5 linked regions of the Homo sapiens genome follow. The protein of the gene in region 3 interacts with the protein of the main gene of each other region in a biochemical or structural test. Each region holds a gene or a part of one and is shown on either strand. Other genes may lie near its edges. The genes, in order: TPR, XPO7, NUP153, ATP8B1 and IPO5.

The links.
Region 1: the proteins of NUP153 (region 3) and TPR form a complex in vitro, tested with the Homo sapiens proteins (one study listed by BioGRID).
Region 2: the proteins of NUP153 (region 3) and XPO7 form a complex in vitro, tested with the Homo sapiens proteins (one study listed by BioGRID).
Region 4: the proteins of NUP153 (region 3) and ATP8B1 interact in a surface display test, tested with the Homo sapiens proteins (one large-scale study listed by IntAct).
Region 5: the proteins of NUP153 (region 3) and IPO5 form a complex in vitro, tested with the Homo sapiens proteins (one study listed by BioGRID).

What each region holds. Positions count from the first base shown.
Region 1 is NC_000001.11:186,333,215-186,337,868, forward strand, and holds part of TPR (nucleoprotein TPR), read right to left. Parts: intron 3,943-4,654; coding exon 3,799-3,942; intron 3,481-3,798; coding exon 3,282-3,480; intron 2,330-3,281; coding exon 2,124-2,329; intron 1,916-2,123; coding exon 1,854-1,915; intron 1,320-1,853; coding exon 1,111-1,319; intron 181-1,110; coding exon 1-180.
Region 2 is NC_000008.11:21,998,965-22,003,618, forward strand, and holds part of XPO7 (exportin-7), read left to right. Parts: intron 1-126; coding exon 127-341; intron 342-571; coding exon 572-710; intron 711-3,147; coding exon 3,148-3,308; intron 3,309-4,254; coding exon 4,255-4,353; intron 4,354-4,654.
Region 3 is NC_000006.12:17,614,108-17,617,956, reverse strand, and holds the end of NUP153 (nuclear pore complex protein Nup153), read left to right. Parts: intron 1-1,261; coding exon 1,262-1,430; intron 1,431-1,775; coding exon 1,776-1,860; 3' UTR 1,861-2,920; downstream 2,921-3,849. UniProt on the Homo sapiens protein: Component of the nuclear pore complex (NPC), a complex required for the trafficking across the nuclear envelope. Functions as a scaffolding element in the nuclear phase of the NPC essential for normal nucleocytoplasmic transport of proteins and mRNAs.
Region 4 is NC_000018.10:57,663,059-57,667,712, reverse strand, and holds part of ATP8B1 (phospholipid-transporting ATPase IC), read left to right. Parts: intron 1-545; coding exon 546-621; intron 622-4,654. UniProt on the Homo sapiens protein: Catalytic component of a P4-ATPase flippase complex which catalyzes the hydrolysis of ATP coupled to the transport of phospholipids, in particular phosphatidylcholines (PC), from the outer to the inner leaflet of the plasma membrane.
Region 5 is NC_000013.11:97,956,675-97,961,328, forward strand, and holds part of IPO5 (importin-5), read left to right. Parts: intron 1-3,672; exon of another isoform or gene 3,673-3,729; intron 3,730-4,654. UniProt on the Homo sapiens protein: Functions in nuclear protein import as nuclear transport receptor. Serves as receptor for nuclear localization signals (NLS) in cargo substrates.

The sequences.
Region 1 (4,654 bases), on a different chromosome or scaffold from region 3:
GCTCAATCTGAGGATGACTCTGTTGAGTGGGTTGCACAAAAGCTGTAGCCTGTGTTTGTTGCTGAACAGTTAAAATAGGTTGAGAGATAGAAGGCTGGACATTAGGACTAGTAGAACGAACGGATCCACTTGTGCTTCCAAAAACTGGAACATGTTCCACAGGCCCTTCTGACTGCATAGCTGAAAAATAATTATAATGCTGAATATAAGCCTTCTACTTTTATCAAAGCTGAAATTATCCTTCCTATTCTGTGGTACATGTCACCTTTCACACAGATTTGGCACTTGGTAGACAAATACATTGTAGGTAAAGGTAATGTATTATGCATTTTTATATTCCCTATGTAATTGATATGGTAGCATGCAATAAAATGTTGCCTGAATTAAATAAATATCTGTAACTGATTTTGCATCTATTCATTTAAATTACTGTTGAATAAAATTAATGAAATTAAGCTCAAAGTAAAATTAGAATTTTTCATTAAGCATCATTTAGTTTTTAATTGATATAACAGATAGTAAATTTGATTAGTAATATATTTAGTTTATTGGATGTAGCTGAAATAAAACATTCTCTACTTTCACAGCACAGAAATACTTGAATAATTTACTGAATTCTAACATTTGTCAAGATAAGAATCTAAGGAAATATGCAGGTAGCAAAGTTTTACTGAACACCTACTGTGGAGTTAGGTAAAGGGATTAAACAATAAGAAGCTGAGATTTTTGCCCTTGAGGAGCTCAATGTAGTGGAGTAAAAAGCATGTATACCACAGAATAAAATACAAAGTTGTAATTGCTGTAATGAATAACAAGAGTGTCATGGGAAAAAATTGAAGAAAGCAATGAAATGGTCAGTTTCAGTGAGAAAGCAATGTTGGATTGAGCCAGTAATTCAGTATGATTTTCCAAAGTGGATTTCATATATTCTTTGTCATTACAAGTGAAAATTTTGGTCCTAGAAGTATGTCCTTCAAATATTAAACACCCATTTTTACAATGACGTGACTTCAGCTGTAGTGGATGCTTCATTTGTCTTTGAAATTACTGTCATCTTCTCATAATAAATCTAAATAAGCAGTCTCATCAGATCTGTATTATTTTACTAACCTTCCTGTGATTCCACTTGTGTAGTGGGCATCACTGTAGCTGTTGGGGTAGTAGTGGGATTTGTAACAGTTGCAGGTGTAACCATTGGGCGGATACTAGCCCTGGGTGTTGACTTATTTCCAGCCATAGCTGCAGCTGTCACTTTACTTGGAGTAGACACAACAGGAGTTGGCTTGATATTGGCTGTTGGTGGGTCTGATGTGCTGGCACTTATAGAGGAGAAAATGGAAGAATAATTAATAACAAATTATTATGCAAATACTTTTAAAAACACAGTGAGTATAGGTCTCCATTTTTTTGTTCACTAAATATTTCAGAGCCTTATTAAAGCTGTTTTGAATTTAAGCATTAAAAACTACACAGGGAATGCTCCAGAGTGGTGCATCCTGACAATGTAAAATGTATCTAGCTGTTGAATTGCTGAACCCAAGTCTCAGCCCAGCATTTTCTATCTGTCATCATGTAACATCACGGGGAAAATCAGTAGCAGCCTAACTTAGAAACCAACTGTAAACTAAAAGATGAGAGACGTTTTCTCTGTCACAAAGCTTCATCTGATAGGACTGAAAGTATGGTGAAAACAAGCTGGCAAATACATGATACAGTTCTGCAGAGAAAACAACTCTTTAGTGTATGTTTTTACAATAGAATACACAGATTTCTTTTTCCTAAACAGAAAGATCACTAGATATTCCCTGAGCTTTAAAAGAAAAATAACAGACTATGAAATAACTAAAACTCACATTCCTCTTTCACCAGAAGCTGGAGTTGTTTTCAATGTGATCTGTCTCTGCTGTTCAGGGACCTATAAAGAGAAAGCTCTTGATTGTTGTTCCTAGCCCACAAGAGTCCACTAAAAATGCCACAAAAAAATTGTCATTATTGTTAATTCTCTCCGCATATATTGAATTTTAGCCAAAATTCACTGACAAAGGCTCCTATATCACCAAGCACTTTCAAGTAAAATGTACAAAGAAAAACAATTTGTTACTTAAGCAGAATTAGCTAATCACCTTATTAGAAGGTTCTTGAGGCTCATCTCTCTGCTCAAGGTGTCTCTCTTGATGCTCCCTGAGTTCTCTTTCCAAGCGACTAATTCGACCTTCATATTGGGACTTTAGCGCAGTAATGCGAACATCCAATTCATCTTTCTGCTGATCTAAGGCTCCATTCCTTTGTTTAAGCTCCTCATTTTCTTTAGTTAGCTGATCTTTTACACCTAAAGAAGTAACCAGGCGATTATATTAATATTATAATCAAACATTTAAAACAGCATTTATGCACTTAATTGGCACATGGTCACATCAGATTCTACTACTATAACATCTACATTAGTTATGATACATCATACATCTCAATGAGCAAAGTTCTAAGTACATTCATGCTTTAACTTATTACTAGAATATAAAATATACTTACTCCAACATAAAAATTTACTTTTTCCTAACTAAAATCTCAAAAAGCTAAAGATCCTAGTTAACAGAAGCCCGTTTATATTTCAATGTATCATGCAATTCATTACTATGAATTGCAAAATTTTTATTTCATATAATCTACAGCACTGTTTAAAAATAATTCAAGAACTTTTAAAATCAAGTAAGTTGTTAGGACACTGTCTTAGAGATCATTTTAAAAAAATGCCTGTAACAAAATCCAACTGATTTGACATTTTATTTAACTACTCAGCAGACTGATAGGCAAGGCTGAATAAAGCCCTGAGCCTTGAAGAACTAGGTTCTTCATAAATTTGACATGATACTCTCCCTGAAAAGCTAGAGGGGTCCTCCACCAAACGAGGCACAAAAAAATCCCTGGGCTGGTAAAGATCTTTATGCAGTCTACATAAGGTTTCTAGACAGCACGGTCTGGGCTCAAAGGATCTCTGTCACAAGATAGAATTGTTATCCATGAAAGCAGAAGGATAGCAGTATTCCATTATCTACTGCCAGCCAACAATTGAGAAAAATTTCATCATATCAAGGATATCCTCATCACTTGAAAATTAGGATTGCTCTTTGTGTCCAACTAATTATTCCTAATATTTAAAGCACACATACACACACAAACACCCTTCATAAGTAGATACCTTTTATTTCTATTCCATTTAGTTTTAGGCCTGCAACACATAATCAACTTTCACTACCAAGTTCAAACTTTAAACAGATATTTACCAGCTAAGTGTGCAATTTTTGACTTTGCTGCTACAATAGCCTTTCTGGTTTTTTCTTCCTTTTCAGTTATCTGTTGTCGGAGCTGCTCCTCCTGTGTGGTTCTATCTTGAAGATCCTGACGAAGTCGTGAAAGTTCAGACTGAAGTTGCACAGTCTGTTCCTGGAGATTTCTTGCTTCTGTCTCTTTTTCAGATAATGTCTTTAAAGGAAAACAAAGTATTCACCATGGAATTCAATCATTTCAATATAAACTGTATGTGGTAGCAACTTAAAGTATAACTTATTAATTTGCTTTTTAAAAGATTAAATGGAAGTATAAGTATAAAAATGGTGGTCAGACCAACTAAATGCACACTTGAAGATGATTGGGTACTACTTACATACATGAGCCATTCAAAGTAAAAAGAATAAAATGTATCCATTCCCACATGGTAAGACAAAGTGTCAGTAGTTAACACATATTTCTTTAGGTGTATAACAGGAAAGAATTAGGAACAGACTGTTCTCACACTCATACCTTCTGCAGATTCTCTACTTGACTTTCAAGTGATTTTGATTTTGTTTCAGCTTGGTTGAGCGTTTCTTTGAGTTCCTGCATTTCCTGGACTGAAACATGCTGCTCCTGATGGTCTCCAGAGGACTGAGCCGATGTCTCCATAACCTAAGACAACAAACAGTAATAATACACTCACATATTTATATTCAGTAATTCCATTTCTGCAAGTTTGTCTAAGAAAATAATCACAGCTTTGCAAAGAAATTTTATCCCTGAAGGTATTCAAAACAGAATTTTCTATGAAACAACTGTAATCTCCAAAAATGGGGAACTAGTTATGGTTTTCCACATAACTGAATACTAAACAGCTAATCAAAATGATGCATTATAGTTGAATTTTCAACACTTAACTGTATTTTCATGATAATGAATCAAGTGAAAAAAGTATACAAAAGAATATAAGCATATAATATTATTTCTTTGGAAAAACGTCGCTTACATGTATGAAAAGGGATACTAATGTACTAATAGTGGCTAAAACAAAGGGGTATTAATTGTGAATTTTTTTTCTTTATATTTATTTTCTAATCCAACATGAAATAAATACATAATTCTCAACATACAAATTCCTTACCTTCAGGAATTAAAAACAATATTTAGATTCAAAATATAAATATAACAAAGATTTCTGAATTTTTTTGATAGGTGGTTAACATAAACAATTTATTTAAAACTATACAAAACCAGATTAGTCATCATTTTTTAATATACACAATTCTAATTAGCAATGAGTTATAAGAACATAGCTTTGAAAATGGAGAGTATTTGAAAGGTGAAGACTGAACTATCTAGTATTTACCAAAATTTGTGAGTTTAT
Region 2 (4,654 bases), on a different chromosome or scaffold from region 3:
ATGTGCATTAGAGTGCCACCTGTCACCAGGGGCCTACTGGAATTTGTATGCCTTTGGAGTAGGAAGGCTGATCTAAACGAGCGCTTCTAATGTGGTTGAATAAACATATATGACATGTCTACTCAGGCAATCGCATCCTGACACTAGGAGAGGTCCCAAAGGATCAGGTCTATGCTCTGAAGCTCAAGGGCATCTCCATCTGCTTCTCCATGCTGAAGGCTGCTCTCAGTGGGAGTTACGTCAATTTCGGAGTCTTTCGTCTCTATGGAGACGATGCCCTGGACAATGCTCTGCAGACCTTCATCAAGCTGCTCCTCTCTATTCCTCACAGTGATCTCTTGGTAAGCCTTACGCTGCATTGCCACAATCTTGTTCCTCATCACATTCAGCCTTTTTCACCTGAGACCAAGATTGAACACTGCTCTTGAGAAACTATGTAAGCTAGCTCCTTTTGCTCTAACTAAGTCTTCTGTTTTCCCACCTAAAAGGAGCTAAGCTATTTAAGATCGTCTCCCTGCATGCTGGAGTGCATAGTGCCTAAGCTGATTTTCTTCCTCTTCCTCTCCCACAGGATTACCCCAAGCTCAGCCAGTCTTATTATTCACTACTGGAAGTCCTGACCCAGGACCATATGAACTTTATTGCAAGCCTGGAACCTCACGTCATCATGTATATTCTCTCTTCCATTTCTGAAGGACTTACTGCACTTGGTAAGCACCTGAGGTGGGTGGGTGAGTTGGTGGGTTTGTTTTTTACCACTTAACTAAACAGAAAGAGAGAATCTTGCCCCAGTGTCCAAAAAGATCACCACTGCCTTGGGGGTTTGGCCATAACAATAGAGTATATAATGCACAGCACATGCTTATCCAGCACACACTCACTGATTCCCTTCCTAAGTACAAGGCCCTGTGGAAGCACTGAGGATACGGTAATTAACAGCATATAGTCCCTGTCCTTAAGGGGCTTATCTGGTGGGTAGAACAGACACATGAACAAACAACTGCCTGTTTACCATACTTACCACTTAAACATTACAATAGGGGTGAGTACAAAGTGCTACACAAGCCCTCAAGAATACCTAGACTCTTGGTTGTGAGGAAGTCAGGATCAAGGAAGACTGGCTGGAAGACTTGGCATCAAAGCATAAACCTAAAAGCTGGACAGATGTTACCCTGGTTAGCCAGGGAGGGTTCCTAGCAGCAGAGACAGCAAGCACTTGCACCTGTAGGCAAGAAAGAACCAGGAAATCCAGATGGCTGGCACACTAGTCCAGAGGAGTTAGGAATGAAATGAAGCTTTAGAGATAAGCAGGAGCAAATCTGGAGATCATGAAGGGGGCCCGCCTGTAAGCCGTATTAGGCTGTTTGAATTCTGTCCTGAGGGCCGTGGAAGCTGGGGAAAGGTTTCATGCAGCTAGCTCCATAAGTTTTTTCATCCTAGTCCATATGGTTTCTGTCAACCATTTTGTTTCTAGGCTACCTTCCAACAATTTTTTTTTTTTTTTTTTTGAGACGGAGTCGCTCTGTCGCCCAGGCTGGAGTGCAGTGGCGCGATCTCAGCTCACTGCAACCTCTGCCTCCCGGGTTCATGCCATTCTTCTGCCTCAGCCTCCCAAGTAGCTGGGACTATAGGCGCCCGCCACCATGCCTGGCTAATTTTTTTGTATTTTTAGTAGAGACGGAGTTTCACTGTGTTAGCCAGGATAGTCTCAATCTCCTGACCTCATGATCCGCCTGGCTTGGCCTCCCAAAATACTGGGATTACAGGCATGAGCCACCGTGCCTGGCCCAACAATCTTAGTAGGTATATGTGTTCAGAGAATAAAACACATTTTTATATTAGGCTGAGCAAAACATAAGTAGGAGGATTAAGTCAACTGCCAAATAGTGATGATATGTTGCAAATACACTTTTGGATTGTCAACTGTGGTGAATTATCCATGCCTCTGTGCGACTTTGATACACATTTACTTCTATCAGTCTATCAGGGTGCATAGCCGTATCTAGTACAGTCCAATCAAGGTATCAGCCCTTGCTTTGGAAGACTTTTTTATGTCTTATTGAAAATACAGGGACCTGGCCGGGCGTGGTGGCTCATCCCAGCACTTTGGGAGGCTGAGGCGGGCAGATCACAAGGTCAGGAGCTCGAGACCAGCCTGGCCAATATGGCAAAACCCTGTCTCTGTACAAAAATTAGCTCGGCGTGGTGGTGTGTGCCTGTAGTCCCAGCTACTCTGGAGGCTGAGGCAGAAGAATCACTTGAACCCGGGAAGTAGAAGCTGTGGTGAGCCGAGATCGTGCCACTTCTGCACTCCAGCCCGGGCGACAGAACGAGACTCCGTATCAAAAAAAAAAAAAAGAAAGAAAAAGCAAGTAGAGGGACGTTTGCATAAACTATCAGTCCCGTAGGAATCAGAGACTTGTTTACTCTTTTAAGGGTTCAGCCCCTTTGTCCTTTGGCCTTACCTCATCAGAGTTCTGTCCACAGGTTGTGCTGTACTGTTCCCTTTGTAAAGACGCATAGATGAGTCTGCAGCTCCCCCCAGAGATGCTTTGGAGATAAACAGATAATACAGCATACCGTGTTCTAACAAACCATAAACATTCAGGGGCTACGTCATTCTGGGTTTAATTACATCCCACTGGTAACTCAGAGCATAGGCTCATACCCCAGGCTTCTTGGATTCTAATCACAGCTCCTGCAATTACTAGCAGTTGATCCTTAGGCCGATACATAACCTCTCCTAATTCTGGTTTCCTCATTTGTAAAACAGAAAACCTAATTCCTGAGTTCTTGAGAGGATAAATTAGAGATAACACCTATAAAGTACTTAGCACAACATCTGGCACAAAAGAAGCACTTGCTGAATCAAACTATTTGTTATTTTGTGTGAGGCAGAAGATGTACGTACATCCACAACACATTGAGCCGATAATTTCAGTATTCTTTATTACCACATACTCACTTTCAAACTTAGAAATTGAGCCCTACTGTACAATGAGGTTAAGAGGTTAACAGGAGTCATCTTGAGCAACCGCCTTGGTTGAATTGGCCACGGTACCCTAATGGATCTCACCCAAAGATAGTCCATATTTGTCCAGGCCACCATCAGCAGCTCTGTCCTACCCCTGCCTTTCTTTCTTGCAGACACCATGGTATGCACAGGCTGCTGCTCCTGCCTGGACCACATTGTGACATACCTCTTCAAGCAGCTGTCACGTAGCACCAAGAAGAGGACCACACCCCTGAACCAGGAGAGCGACCGCTTTCTGCACATCATGCAGCAGCATCCAGAGATGATCCAGCAGGTAAGAAAGTGGAGGCTTAGGAGGCAGTGATGGGGTGTCCGACAGAGGAAGGACCTCTGCAAGACAGGGGAGCCCACACACGATTAACATGACATCTCATCAGGTTCCTGCTGCTGAGATGAAGTCCGTGTCTTAAAGTTGCAGTGGATTTTGAGTTTGCCAAGTAATCACTGGATGTAGAAAACGCTCAGGTTCTGGATTATTCTTCTGAGTGTCACAGTGATCCCTATGCCCTGGACCTGTCTCATGATCACTATCCTCTTTCTGTGAAAATTACTTTGCTCACCCACTGCTATAAATAGAGCAGGAGTTAGCAGCATCCAGCTTTCTAAAGGCTTGTGTTCCTGTTTACAAAACAGGAAGAAGAATGCAAGACAGAAGGAAATAACTGGCCACAGAGAGATCAAACCATATGCTTGCCCTTATTTTATTTGTATGTGCCTTGAAGTAACTTACAGAAATACATGCTAGATGAAAATAGATAAGGAAATGGGATCAGTAATTATTGAGATTTTAGCCAGTCTTACCTTTGTCCACACCGTTCTCTAAAGAAGCAGTGAAATAATTCAGGACTCCATTACATTCACAAGATGTCATAAAGCTGTCAACTCCGAGTACCTGGAAGGGATCATGCAAGGTGGTTTTGCTTACTGTAATTTTGTTTACGTGACCCCATCCCATTCCCCACAACTCAGGGTGACCTGGAAAGATCCATTGGTAAGTGAAGTTCAAACCAATTTTAAGAACAAGAAAGGAAATGAATATCTTAGAAGAAAAGGTAACCTTGAAATAGAAGACTCAGATGAAGCTTCACAAACTATTTGTCTGATTTACCCTATACAGAAAAGGCCTTCAGCCTAATATACTCCTGTATTTGGAATCTGTCGTTTTATCTTGGGTAGCAATACATTAGGTCACTGCCTGAAATTCTCCATTCCATTTTCAGATGCTGTCCACGGTGCTGAACATCATCATCTTTGAAGACTGTAGGAACCAGTGGTCTATGTCCCGACCACTACTTGGCTTGATATTGCTTAATGAAAAGGTGAGAGAGCCAGCTCCCTGGTGCCAACCCAGAAGCAGTGGCAACCACGCACTTGGTATCACCAAGCCCTGGGAGAAATGTGTATAGAAACACCCCACGGTGGTGAAACAGGGAAAATGGGTCATTTACTGAGCAAGTCCCATTTGTGCTTTCAGTATCACATAATCATTTAACTGTTAGAAGTCAGCATGTGTGGTAGCTCACAGACACAGGATAAAGGAGTGTTTCCCCTAGGCAGTAAGAGAAACCTTTCAAGGAAATAATGTACCTGGGTATCAGAGGACCTAAGACCTAAGTTCTA
Region 3 (3,849 bases):
GGTGTCTCCCAGTCCAGACACTTCTACAAAGACTAAAACACTAAACTTCTGTTCTGGTGCGGTGGAAGAGGAGAATTACCATCTTTTTTTTCTTTTTTTTTCTTTTCCTTCTGAGATAGGGTCTCACTCTGTTTCCCAGGCTGGAAGGCAGTGGCAGAGTCAGGGCACACTGCGTCCTCGACCTCCTAGGCTCAGAAGATCTTCCCACCTCAGCCTCCTGAGTAGCTGGGATTACAGGTGCACGCCACTACGCCTGGCTAATTTTGAAAAATTTTTTATAGAGATAGGATCTCGCCATGTTGCCTAGGTTGTTCTCAAACTCCTGGGCTCAAGCAGTCCACCTGCCTTGGCCTCCCAAAGTGCTAGGATTATACGCATGAGTCACTGCACCCACTGATAATTACCATCTTTGTGTTGGTGTTGGGAGGGATTGATTCTGGGTATCTGCTTCTAAACATACTCTGCCATCCTTTTTTTTTTTTTTTTTTTTTAATTCCCACTACATCCTCACTTCCATAGGTATCTGGAACCTAAACATTTTGGGTATGTTTGGTGTAAATGCAATTGCTTCTGTTCTTTCCCTACTGCTCGTTTAGTATCAACTCTAGTCAGCCTTCCAGCTTCTAAACCTATATCTTTGTAAAAATCCCTTGTTGTTTTAATGCACTTTTCAAAGAAGATAGAGCTAAGTGTATTTGTTGATTTCACTGTCTTTAACCATAAGTCCAGGGTGCCCTTTTCCCCTTGGTCATAGGTAAGTTGTGTGATTTGTTGGAGGTGTCAAGTATGTACTATGTGTCAGTGGAGAAAATAGTTTTCTTTAGATTAAAAGACCAGAATATTTTAATTCTTTGCATGTTTTTATATGTAAAGGTCAGAGTCTTTAATTTAAAAACCTATCATGTTGCGGCCGGGTGCAGTGGCTTACGCCTGTAATCCAGCACTTTGGGAGGCCGAGGTGGACAGATCACAAGGTCAGGAGATCGAGACCATCCTGGCCAACATGGTGAAACCACGTCTCTACTAAAATACAAAAAATTAGCCAGGCATGGTGGCACGCACCTATATAGTCCCAGCTACTGGGGAGGCTGAGGCAGGGGAATCACTTGAACCCAGGAGGCAAGGGTTGCAGTGAGCCAAGATTGTGCCACTGTACTCCAGCCTGGGCAAGAGAGCGAGACTCCGTCTCAAAAAACAAACAAACAAACAAAAAAACCTATCATTTTGCCCTAATGAAGTATTTCTGCTTTAACTATTGCAGGTTCGGCTTTCCAGTTTGGCAGCAGCACTACAAATTTCAACTTCACAAACAACAGTCCATCAGGAGTGTTCACATTTGGTGCAAATTCTAGCACACCTGCAGCCTCAGCCCAGCCTTCAGGCTCGGGGGGCTTTCCATTTAACCAGTCTCCAGCAGCATTTACAGTGGGGTAAGAGAATTTTTTATTGAAATGGAGAAGTTACATTGGTAAGGGTATGTGCATGTATATGTTTTGTTTTTAAAAGTCATCAAGATTCCGTATGGTTTGGGTAAAATTAAATATGTTCTCCAACATAAATTTACCATACTATAATTCTGGAGGATTATATTACAGTTTGAGAAAAAAATAACAGTAGCGTGTGTGTTAGGTGTAGCAGAAAATGTATATACCAATGTGAGTCTACTCCCCCCCCACCCGACCCCCCTTACCCTTGTGCTGCTCATGGTAAATGTTAGCATTTGGAAATTTTGCTCAGAGCATCATGTCACATTATGAAGTTTTTATTTTTCACAGGTCAAATGGGAAAAATGTGTTCTCTTCTTCTGGAACTTCATTCTCTGGTCGCAAGATAAAGACTGCTGTTAGACGCAGGAAATAAAGGTCACATTGGTGTTGTACTCAATTTTAACAACAGCTGGTGCCCTGCTTTCAGATACTGGATTGTACTTTGTGCTGGGGTTATCTGAAGTCAGATCTGCCTAAGGACTTCTTTAATTTTGGAATTTTCCTCCTTTCTCTTTCGTTACAGAAGCCCCACCCTGCCTCACCCACCCTTTTTTAAATAAATAAATAGCTAGACTGGTGACTGATTCTTCAGCAAAAATATTTTATGATCCAGCAGATTATTCACTGATTTGACATAGTCTGGCTGTACCCAGGAATGGAGCCTGCACGGTGAATGGCTTTGTATAGAACCTCTTTGTCTACACCATTATGTGCGCTGATAAGCGTTCATGGAACGCGTTGAAATTGTAATTATATCTGAGGAATTCTGTATAGATTAGAATTCTGTATAGATTAGAGAGTGTTGAAACGGATGATTTCTATGCTGAGTTTGTGCTGGTGTATGTGTGAAGTGAGTGAGTTGGGTGTATTGTGCGCTAAACTTTTCTGATAGAGGAAGCCTGATTAAAGAATGGTCCGTGCTAAGGACTTGTTAGATCTAGTTCACTCTCCATTTAATAATTATATGCTATTTCTATATTTTCATTCTCCTATCACCTGTCTTGCCTTTTTCATTATTTTATTATGAAACTTGTGTAAATACAATTTTGTTTCTGTACTTTTTGGCATAACATAAATCTGTGAACTTGAAATTTGAATTTTGTGTTAGAGATTTTTTTGTTGTTTGTTTAGTCTTGTCTCAGATTTTATTATGTAAATCCCATTATTCAAAGTTGCCTAAATCCATTTGGAAATCTTTAAAAAAAAAATTGGGGATTCTTAAAGTTGAATTTATTGGCTTTTCTGATCCAGTTTTGTTTGGACCAAAAACCAGTATTGTACAAAGTATTAAGCATATATTTTTATATTTACTAAAATGGACTGTGGTGACTTTGGATAATAAGGAAAAGTTTAATATTAAAGCCATGTTTATTACAGTATAATTAACATGTTAAACCATGGGATAAATGCCATCAATAAAAAATTATGACATACTTTTTGTTCTAGTTTTACCTCATAATGAAGGCACACAGTATTATTGGGGGGACTTTGTAAAATAAAGATTAACAGTGTCTCATTAGAAGAATACATTGACATGATTTAGACAACTCCTAAGAGAAAGGGAAAGTATCTGAAAGTATCTGAATGCACAACATATAGAAGGTACCCTACTTCTTGCCTGGTGCTAGGAATCATGCCTAATTTGCATATCGACTTAGGTACCTTTTTTAAAAGTTGAAAATACACACATTCATTTCTCTTTGTGCTTCTATCTTCCTTGGTAAGTTACTGGATAGTGTTTATTAAAGTTCTTGGAAATACATACACAAAAACTACAGTTGTCTCTTGGTGTGTGCAGGAGATTGTTCCCAGAACTGCACTCCCCCCCCCCCCCAGTTCTCCCGCCCCCAAACCACAATCCACAAATTTCAGCAGTGGACCCTGCAGAACCTGAGTATACCAAAAGCCAGCCCTCCGAATGTGCAGGTTTTATATCCCACGAATACTGTGTTTTTGATCTGTTTTTGGTTGAGTTAAAAAAAAAAAAAAAACCCGTGATAAGTGGGCCCACGGTTCAAACCCGGGTTGTTCAAGGGTCAGCTGCACTTTCTTTTGTATTATTTTACTGCATTCTTTTTTTTTTTTTTAAACTGGATTCCCATGGTCCATAAAAGAGCTCTTGGAACAATATTTGGTAATTTTATTTTTCAGTTGGAAATGTACAGTTATTTAAATTGTGCTCAGTTTTAATTTACTGAACTTCTGGTTGGTTGGAGTTTATGTTTTTCCAAGACGGAGTCTTGCTCTGTCGCCCAGGCTGGAGTGCAGTGGTGCGGTCTCAGCTCACTGCAACCTCTGCCTCCTGGGTTCAAGCAATTCTCCTGCCTCAGCCTCCTAAGTAGCTGTGATTACAGGCGCCCGC
Region 4 (4,654 bases), on a different chromosome or scaffold from region 3:
AACTGAGAGTGTTTAGTAATTTAATGAACATTGGTTTACTAAATAACCAGTTTATATGTTTGATAATATAGCACATTTTATTATTGAAAACATTTCAAATTAGACTTTGACTTTCACTTGTTTTATTATGGAGAAAAGGATTTTTCTTCTGCATGTGATTCCTACAGATTGCTATAGAAAAATAGTGTGTTTGTGTGAATCTGGTTATGTTCATGAACTAAAAAATATCATTACTAGGTAAAATCAATTATTCAGTTCAACAGTAAGAATGAGCCTGGCAAACATGACAAAACCCCATCTCTAGAAAAAACACAAATTGTTTGGTGGCTTGGCAGCGAGTTGCGTAGTCCCAGCTACTTGGGGGCTGCGGGTGGTGCTGAGATGGGCAGATCACTTGAATCCTGGAGGTTGAGGCTGTAGTGAGCAGAGATTGTGCCACTGCACTCCAGCCTAGGCAGTGGGAGTGAGATGCTGTCTCAAAAAACAAAATAAAATAAAATAAAAACAGCAGGAATGACATTTGACTTAATTTTATTCTATTGTAGAAACTGCTGAAAATATAGGATTTGCTTGTGAACTTCTGACTGAAGACACCACCATCTGCTATGGGGAGGATATTAAGTGAGTAAAAGCCTGCAGTATGAAATTACGTAATAGCTCATCTTTGCAAATGCAAGACTGTCTGTAGAAGATAGCAGATATGAAGAAATAGGGGTTACGATGTGTCACTTGGGGCAGTTTCCTCATGTTTAAATGAGGCAAGACAACAACAGGCAGTTCCAAGTAATCAAGGTGCAGCCTAAATTTGAGCAGATTTTACTTTTAGGGAAACTTGGGGCCCTTCAGAGGCCATTTTTCTCCATTCCTTCTCAGCTCAGGCCAGGCGCAGTGGCTCATGCCTGTAATCCCAGCCCTTTGGGAGGCCGAGGCGGGTGGATCACCTGAAGTCAGGAGTTCTAGAGCAGCCTGGCCAACATGGTGAAACCCCGTCTCTACTAAAACTACAAAAATTAGCTGGGTGTGGTGCCCGGTGCCTGTTATCTCAGCTACTCGGGAGGCTGAGGCAGGAGAATCACTTGAACCCAGGAGGCAGAGGTTGCAGTGAGCCAAGATCACGCCACTGTACTCCAGCCTAGGTGACAAGAGTGAAACTCTGTCTCATTAAAAAAAAAAAAAAAACTCGGTTCACCTACTAAAAATTCCGTAAAAAGCCTGTAATATCGCTAGCAAATTAATATGAATTATAGTCCTATTTTGCTTTTTCTAGGAACTTTTACTTTTGAAAGGGAAATAGAAGAAAGGAAAAAAAAAACCCAAAACTTTTGCGGGAAGGAAATGTGTGGGTGGGTTACATCATGTAGGTCCCCTGTAATCTAGTCTAGGTGGGGCAGGCCTGATAATTCAAATGTTAGCATATGCTGAAACGTTTGTTAGCTTTGAATCAGAGTCGCAGCAGACCTGGAAATGTATGATGAAAAAGCCCTGTCTTGTTCTGAAGCTATAAATATGCTGCACACAGTTACTGTGATGTGTTTACTGATGGCCTGACAGTTCCTCAAGATTTTTCCCTACAGAGCTTCTCTCAGGCCAGCATGAGGTCAGATTAAACTGTTAACATACACATTTGCCAGGTGTGATAAAGTGATGAGGGAATTGATGGTCAATATTAGTCTTATTTCTAATGATGGTGATAAAGCATTTTCTAGTTGTTCTAGTATATTAGGTATTCCGTCAAATTAGACAAAATCAGTAGCCTTATGATCTAAATCAGTTCCATTTAGAACTGATTTAGTTTATGTGCCCAAATAGAGGTACATAAGCCATGCCCCTTTGTGCTTTTAGGTTTTAAAAAAGTAGCAACAGGCTGGGCACGGTGGCTCATGCTTGTAATACCAGCACATTGGGAGGCCGAGGCGGGTGGATCACGAGGTCAGGATTTTGAGAACAGCCTGACTGATATGATGAAACCCCGTCTCTACTAAAAATACAAAAATTAGCCAGGCATGGTGGCATGTGCCTGGAATCCCAGCTACTCGGGAGACTGAGGCAGGAGAATTGCTTGAACCTGGGAGGCAGAGGTTGCAGTGAGCCAAGATAGTGCCACTACACTCCTGCCTGGGTGACAGAGCAAGACTCCGTCTCAAAAAAAAAAAGTAGCAACAGACAAATAAATGCTTAATGCTTAATGAGTTTACTTTAGTAGTTTTGGGCTTCAAGTAATCTGATTAATTACTATATGGCTTTGTTTATTTTTTGTAGATGGGGCTGTAAAAAAATTTCTGGTCTCTCTTTTGAAAGTCTTAAAAATTGGTCCCGAAGCTAAAGTAAAAGATAAAATGTATGCAAGTAGCAAATGTTGTGACCATGCCCTTAGCTGAGTTTACCTTTATAGAGAGAGGAATCATCTTCCCAGGTGGCTCTTAAATTGATGATTCCTATAAAATGATTTGAATAGAAGGTATCTTCATTTTTTTTCTCTTACGGCCTTTCAATGATTTGTCTTAGTCACTCACTTTTAACTTGAAAATGAGAATTAAATTGATGTGGAAAAGGGATACTAGATACTTAATCCTCTAGTGCAGTGATTCTCCGTGGGGAGTGAGTTTGCCTTCCAGGGACCCTTTGGCACTGTCCAGAGACACTTGCTTGTTTCAGCTGCAGAGAAGTGCTCCTGGCTTCTAGTGGGTAGAGGCCAGGGATGTTGCTAAACATCCTCCAGTGCAAGGGATGGCCACACAAAATAAAGGATTATTAGGCCCAAGACATCAAGAGTGCAAAGGCTGAGAAGCCTTCTTTGGAAGGAGAAGAACAATGGCTTTTTGTATGTAATAGTAAGAGTCCTGAGCCAGAAGTTACAAGATAACTGAGTCCTCATTCTAGTTTTCCTATCAACCTGCAGCAGGCAAATCACATCACCTTCCTCTGGCTTGATTTCCTTATTTGTAACATGAAGAGATTGGACAAGATATTTAAGGTCCCTTCCACTCCAAAATTTCATGACTCATTTTTCTATCACATGAAAGTGTTACACGTAGCCTTGTCACATATATCATTTTAACACAAACATTTAATTTGTTGATATAAAGCACTGAGAATTTCTCAAACACAGATATAGTTTTGTTTATATGAAAATAAGTTTATTCCTAACAAACAATAGCCAGTATTCTAATTCAGATCAAGATTGCCTTTCCTTTTTTTTTTTTTTTTTTTTCTTAGAAAGACTCTGTCACCCAGGCTGGAGTGCAGTGGTGCAATCTTGGCTCATTGCAACCTCCGCCTCCTGGGTTCAAGTGATCCTCATGCCTCAGCCTCCCAAGTAACTGGGATTACAGGCACCGCCACCACGCCTGGGTAATTTTTGTATTTTTAGTAGAGACAGAGTTTCACTATGTTGGCCAGTCTGGCTGCGAACTCCTGACCTCGACTGATCTGCCCGTCTCAGCCTCCCAAAGTGCTGGGATTACAGGTGTGAGCCACAGTGCCTGGCCTAAGATTGCCTTTCTTCTGTTGCTGTGTATACATTTTCAACTGTATCTTCCTTTGACTGTCTTTGAAAAATGATGAATTACATGGTACCCCCATGGTGGATGAATCGAGACATAGTAAAATTACATGTCGCTCAGTTAAAAAAAAAAAAAAAAAAGGGCTGGCCAGGCGTGGTGGCTCATGCCTGTAATCCCAGCACTGTGGGGGGCTGAGGCGGGTGGATCATGAAGTCAAGAGATTGAGACCATCCTGGCCAACATGGTGAAACCCTGTCTCTACTAAAAATACAAAAATTAGCTGGGCATGGTGGTGCCCGTCTGTAGTCCCAGCTACTTGGGAGGCTGAGGTGGAAGAATAGCTTGAACCTAGGAGGTGGATGTTGCAGTGAGCTGAGATAACACCACTGCACTCCAGCCTGGTGACAGAGCGAGACTCTGCCTCAAAAAAAAAAAAAAAAAAAAAAAATGGGCAAAGCACTTTGAGTAGACATTTTTCCAAAGAGGACATGCAAATGGCTGATAAACATGTGAAAGGAGGCTCATCATCACTAATCATTAGGGGAAGATAAATCAAAACCAAAGCAAGATAACACCTCACACCCTTTAGGATGGCTACTATCAAAAACAAAACACAATAGAAAATAACAATCATTGTTGAAGGAACCTTTGTGTGTTGTTGATGAAATATATAAAATGGTGCAGCCACTATGCAAAACAGTATGGTGATGTTTCAAAAAATTTCAAAAAGGATTACCATATGATGCAACAATCCCACTTCTGGGTATATCCACAAAATAATTGAAAGCAGGATCTCAAAGAGATACATGCACACCCATGTTCACAGCAACACTGTTCACAGCAGCCAAGAGATGGACGCAACCCAGGTGCCCATCAGTGAGTGAATGGATAAACAGAATGTGGTGCTTCCACATAATGGAATATATTCAACTTTAAAAAGGAAGGAAATTATGACATATATTATATAGATGAACCTTGAAGACATTAAGCTAAGTGAAATAAACCAGTCACAGAAAGACAAATACTGTTTGATTTCACATATATGAGGTATCTAGAGTGCTCAAATTCATTCAAACAGAAAGTTAACTGGAAGTTACCAGGGACTGGAGGGCGAGTGAGGTGAGGTGTTATTGTTTAATAGGTATAGAGTT
Region 5 (4,654 bases), on a different chromosome or scaffold from region 3:
GGTTTTTAAATAGTCCTCTTGTTAGAAAAGATTTAGCCCTTATCCTCAATCTCACAGCCACTAAATAGTCAATTCACACAAGCCAAGTGATTTGTAAAATAGGAGTCTCTGCAAACTGAGTCCAACCAGCTTGAATAATAGCATCATAACATAATGGGATCCCTTTCTGGTGGTAGTGTCCGGGACCAAATACCAAAATTCCTATTTTAAGCTGTATTAAGATTTTCTAAATGTAGCTATGTTTCAAGAGAAAATGCTTGGTCTATGGATAGCTGAAGCCATGTAAAACAAGCATTCTTATCACATGGGTCCAATATCGCTGATTTTACATGGCAGATAGACCTTAAAACGCATTCCTACTTTTCCCACTCCCTCCCACATTCTTTAAAAGGGTAGGGTTTATTATCTCTCTGAATACTCAAATGAAAACTTAAGTGTATAAACAAAACTAGAAAAATCCTTAGATTAAGATGGGAGGAAGATGGTCTTTTGACCTCTTAATATTAGTTTGATCTAACATCTTTTTTTTTTTCTATTTTTTGAGACTGAGTCTCATTTTGTTGCCCAGGCTGGAGTGCAGTGGCGTGATCTCAGCTCACTGCAGCCTCCACCTCCCAGGTTCAAGCGATTCTCCCACCTCAGCCTCCTGAGTAGCTGGGACTACAGGCCTGCGCCACCATACCTGGCTAATTTTTTTTTTGTATTTTTTGTAGAGACAAGGTTTCACCATGTTGGCCAGGCTGGTCTCGAACTCCGACCTCAGGTGATCCACCTACCTCCCAAAGTCCTGGGATTACAGGCATGAGCCACCGCACTCAGCCTGATCTAAGTTCTTTAAATGATCATTCCATATTGTTAAACAATGTTTCTAAGTGAGAGGTAGAGAATTATATTAGTTGGTAGGAGGCCTAAATGCTTGAAGACAATTTAGAGAAAACTAGTTATTTCCTTGGCACAAAGTAAATCCTACTACTCCTGAAGTATAAGAAAAAATAAAAATAAAAACAATAAAAATAAACAATTCTTTGATCAAATAATTTTTTTAATTGACTTGTTCTGATCATTAGGGCCTACTTGTTCAGCCCACTATCCTTACATGCATTAGTGGATTCCTTCTCTTTTTTATCTCTGAAGATTTCAGAAGTAGATCAGTGGATTCCTTAAATGTTAAAGAAACCCTGTCTTCTGTAATCCCAGCTACTCTAGAGGCCGAGACAGCAGAATCGCTTGAACCCATGAGGTGGAGATTGCAGTGAGCCGAGATCGCACCACTGCACTCCAGCCTGGGTGACAGAGTGAGACAGAATGAGACTCTGTCTCAGAAAAAAAAGTAAAGAAAGAAACCCTTGCAATCAGAAAGAAAAAGAGAATTACAACTTAAAGTGACTAATGTTAAATATACTATTATATTTGGACTATATATAAACTAGAAACCTCCAGGGCCTGGCCTCAGGTGGAGTTGTCTTGCAGCTGATTGCTTGGCTCTCTTCTCTCTTCCCAACCTGATGTCATCCACTTCCACAACTTTAAATGCCATGAAAGTGATGGCTTGCCATTTCCAGCCCTGCCCTCTTCCTGGGCTCCATTGTCCCTCTATCCTCAGCCACGTGGCTGTTTCCTGTGTCCCACAAAAGTGCCACGAAGGAAACCCAGCTCTTCTCTCCAGACCTTACCCCAAACACCTCCTTCTCATCTTAATAGCATCATCAGTTGCTCAGTCACAAAACCTGGGCATTCTTGATCTCTCCCGACCTCACCCCCACCATCGGGAGAGGACTCATCAAGAAATTCCAGAAGCTTAAGTGTCAGGGACTCTCCTTTGCTCAGGACCCTCTATCTCATTTTGTGTTACCCCATTGCAGGGTCCTCTATCTCATTTTGTGTTTAGTTTTTATTTTTCTTATGGAAGGCCCTCAAACTGTATGATTTAGGCCTCACAAACCTTGGATCGGCCTCTGCACCCTCTGTCCAGCTCATTTCCAAAAGAAAACTATCTCAAAAAAAAAAAAGAAAGAAAGAGAAAAGAAAACCATCTAAAACCGACCACACAACAGTGAACACTGTTGATTGCTACCACCTCAGTCCAAGCCCCATCCCACCCCACCCCACACTGCAGCCAAGATGATCTTTGAAAGTTGAAAGCTTCTCAGGTCAGATCTCTTTCTTAACCCTCCACTAGATTCCCCTTTCCCCTAGGACAAGTCACACTACAAGAGGCAGGACACGGTGGCTCACACCTGTAACCCCAGCACTTTGGGAGGCTGAGGCAGGTAGATCACCTGAGGTCAGGAGTTCAAGACCAGCCTGGCCAACATGGTGAAACCTCGTCTCTACTAAAAATACAAAAATTAGCCAGACGTGGTGGCGGGCACCTGTAATCCCAGCTACTCGGGAGGCTGAGGCAAGAGAATTGCTTGAACCTAGGAGGCAGAGGTTGAAGTGAACTAAGATCACGCCACTGCACTCCAGCCTGGGTGACACAGCAAGACTGTGTCTCAAAAAAAAAAAAAGAGAGAGAACAAGTCACACTACAGAACCATCACAATGCCCTAGTAGCAGAACATGCTGCTGAACTATCAGGGTGCCCTGGGTGATCTGGCCTCTGCTGGCCTCTCAACCCTCTCAGCTTTAGCTATCCCCTTCTTTCCTTTCTGGAATACCCCAACTTGTTTTTGCCTCTGTCCTTCGTATTGTCACCTCTGCTTGAGAGAGCCTCCTCCATTTCTTTATTTGCCTCATCTTTCATTGTCACCTCCTCTCAAAAGACTGTCCCGGCAGGGCACGGTGGCTCACGCCTATAATCCCAGCACTTTGGGAGGCCGAGGCGGGTGGGTCACAAAGTCAGAAGTTCAAGACCAGCCTGGCCAACATGGTGAAACCCCGTCTCTACTAAAATACAAAAAACAAAAATTAACCGGGTGTGGTGGCGGGCGCCTATAGTCCCAGCTACTTAGGAGGCTGAGCCAGGAGAATTGCTTGAACCCGGGAGGCGTAGGTTGCAGTGAGCCTAGATAGCGCCACTGCACTCCAGCCGGGGTGACGGACTGGGACTCTGTCTCAAAGAAAAGAAAGACTGTGTCCCTAGGGTATGACCCCACTCCAAATCCAGTCATTCGTGATCCCATTATCTTCTTTTTTCACCTATAACTGTATGCAAGTATCTTATCAGTTTACTTGTTTATTATCTGAATTCTTTCAAAAGAGCTAAGCTCCCTGAAGGTGGGAACCCTGTCCGCATGCTCACCGTGGAATCCCCACAGCCTAGCAGCACCTCCCACAGAGGGGTGCCTAATATTTTTCTAAACAAATGAATGAAGAAAATGTTCATTAAACAAATACTACTGCAGTTAAATGTGGCATCAAGCAGTACTACACATAGGATGCATGGAATTGAAGCCTATGAACCATTATAAGGTCCCTTTCATTTGTTCCTCATTAACTGTGGATGACTAAAAATCCATGCTGCCAATAGCTCCAACTATGAGATGCAGATCGATGTCACAATTCAGACTCCATTATGTATGTCCTCACAATGCAGGAGGTGAAATGTGTATGTCATGTGTCCAAATTGTAAGATACTTGCTGTAAGTAGCAAAAAGATGGGAAGGAAAGTCTACAGACCAAATCATATCTGAATCTCCCCATTCTCCCTCTCCACAAATATTGGTTTAGGAATTCTCCGAAGTTTGAAGGTTATGAATGGTTATCACTCAAGGATTCAGAACTAAGGTAAAAATACTGTGAATGATAGGGGGAAAAAATCACTAATTGAGGTCTAAATCAATATCCTTCAGCTCTCTAAGGAAATGTATTTTTAATATAATAGCTTTATTGAGACATTCATACACCATAAAGTCCAAATTTTACTTTTTATTTTATTTATTTGGTTTTTTTTTTTTTTGAGATGGAGTTTCACCCTTGTCACCCAGGCTGGAGTGCAATGGCATGATCTCGGCTCACTGCAACCTCCACCTCCTGGGTTCAAGCAATTCTCCTGCCTCAGCCTCTTGAGTAGCTGGGATTACAGTCGCGCACCACTACGCCCAGCTAACTTTTGTACTTTCAGTAGAGACAGCGTTTCACCATGTTGGTCAAGCTGGTCTCGAACTCCTGACCTCAGGTGATCCACTCGCCTGAGCCTCCCAAAGTGCTGGGATTACAGGCATGAGCCACCTCACCCAGCCTAAAGTTCAACCTTCTAAAGTGTACAATGGAGTGTTTAGTATATTCAGTGGGCTGCACATTCATCACTATCACCCTTTCCTCACCCTAAAAGAAAACTCCATACCTGCTAGCACTCACTGATTCCCCTACCCACCCCATGCCCAGGCACATGGCAAGCACCAATCTACTGTCTATGGATGTGCTGATTCTGGACATTTCCCATAAGTGGGACCAAAAAAATGTGTGGTCTTTTTGTCTGATTTCCTTCAGGCAGTCTAATGAGTTTAAGGTTCACTCATGTTGTTACATGTATCATTACTTTATTCTTTTATTGCGAAGTAATATTTCCTTGTATAGTTAGAAGACATTTTGTTTATCCATTCACCAGTGGATGGACAGTTGAATTGTTTCCACTTTTTGGCTGTGGTGAATAATGTTGCCATGAACATTCATGTACAAGTTTTTGTGTCAACATATGTTGTCTTTTCTC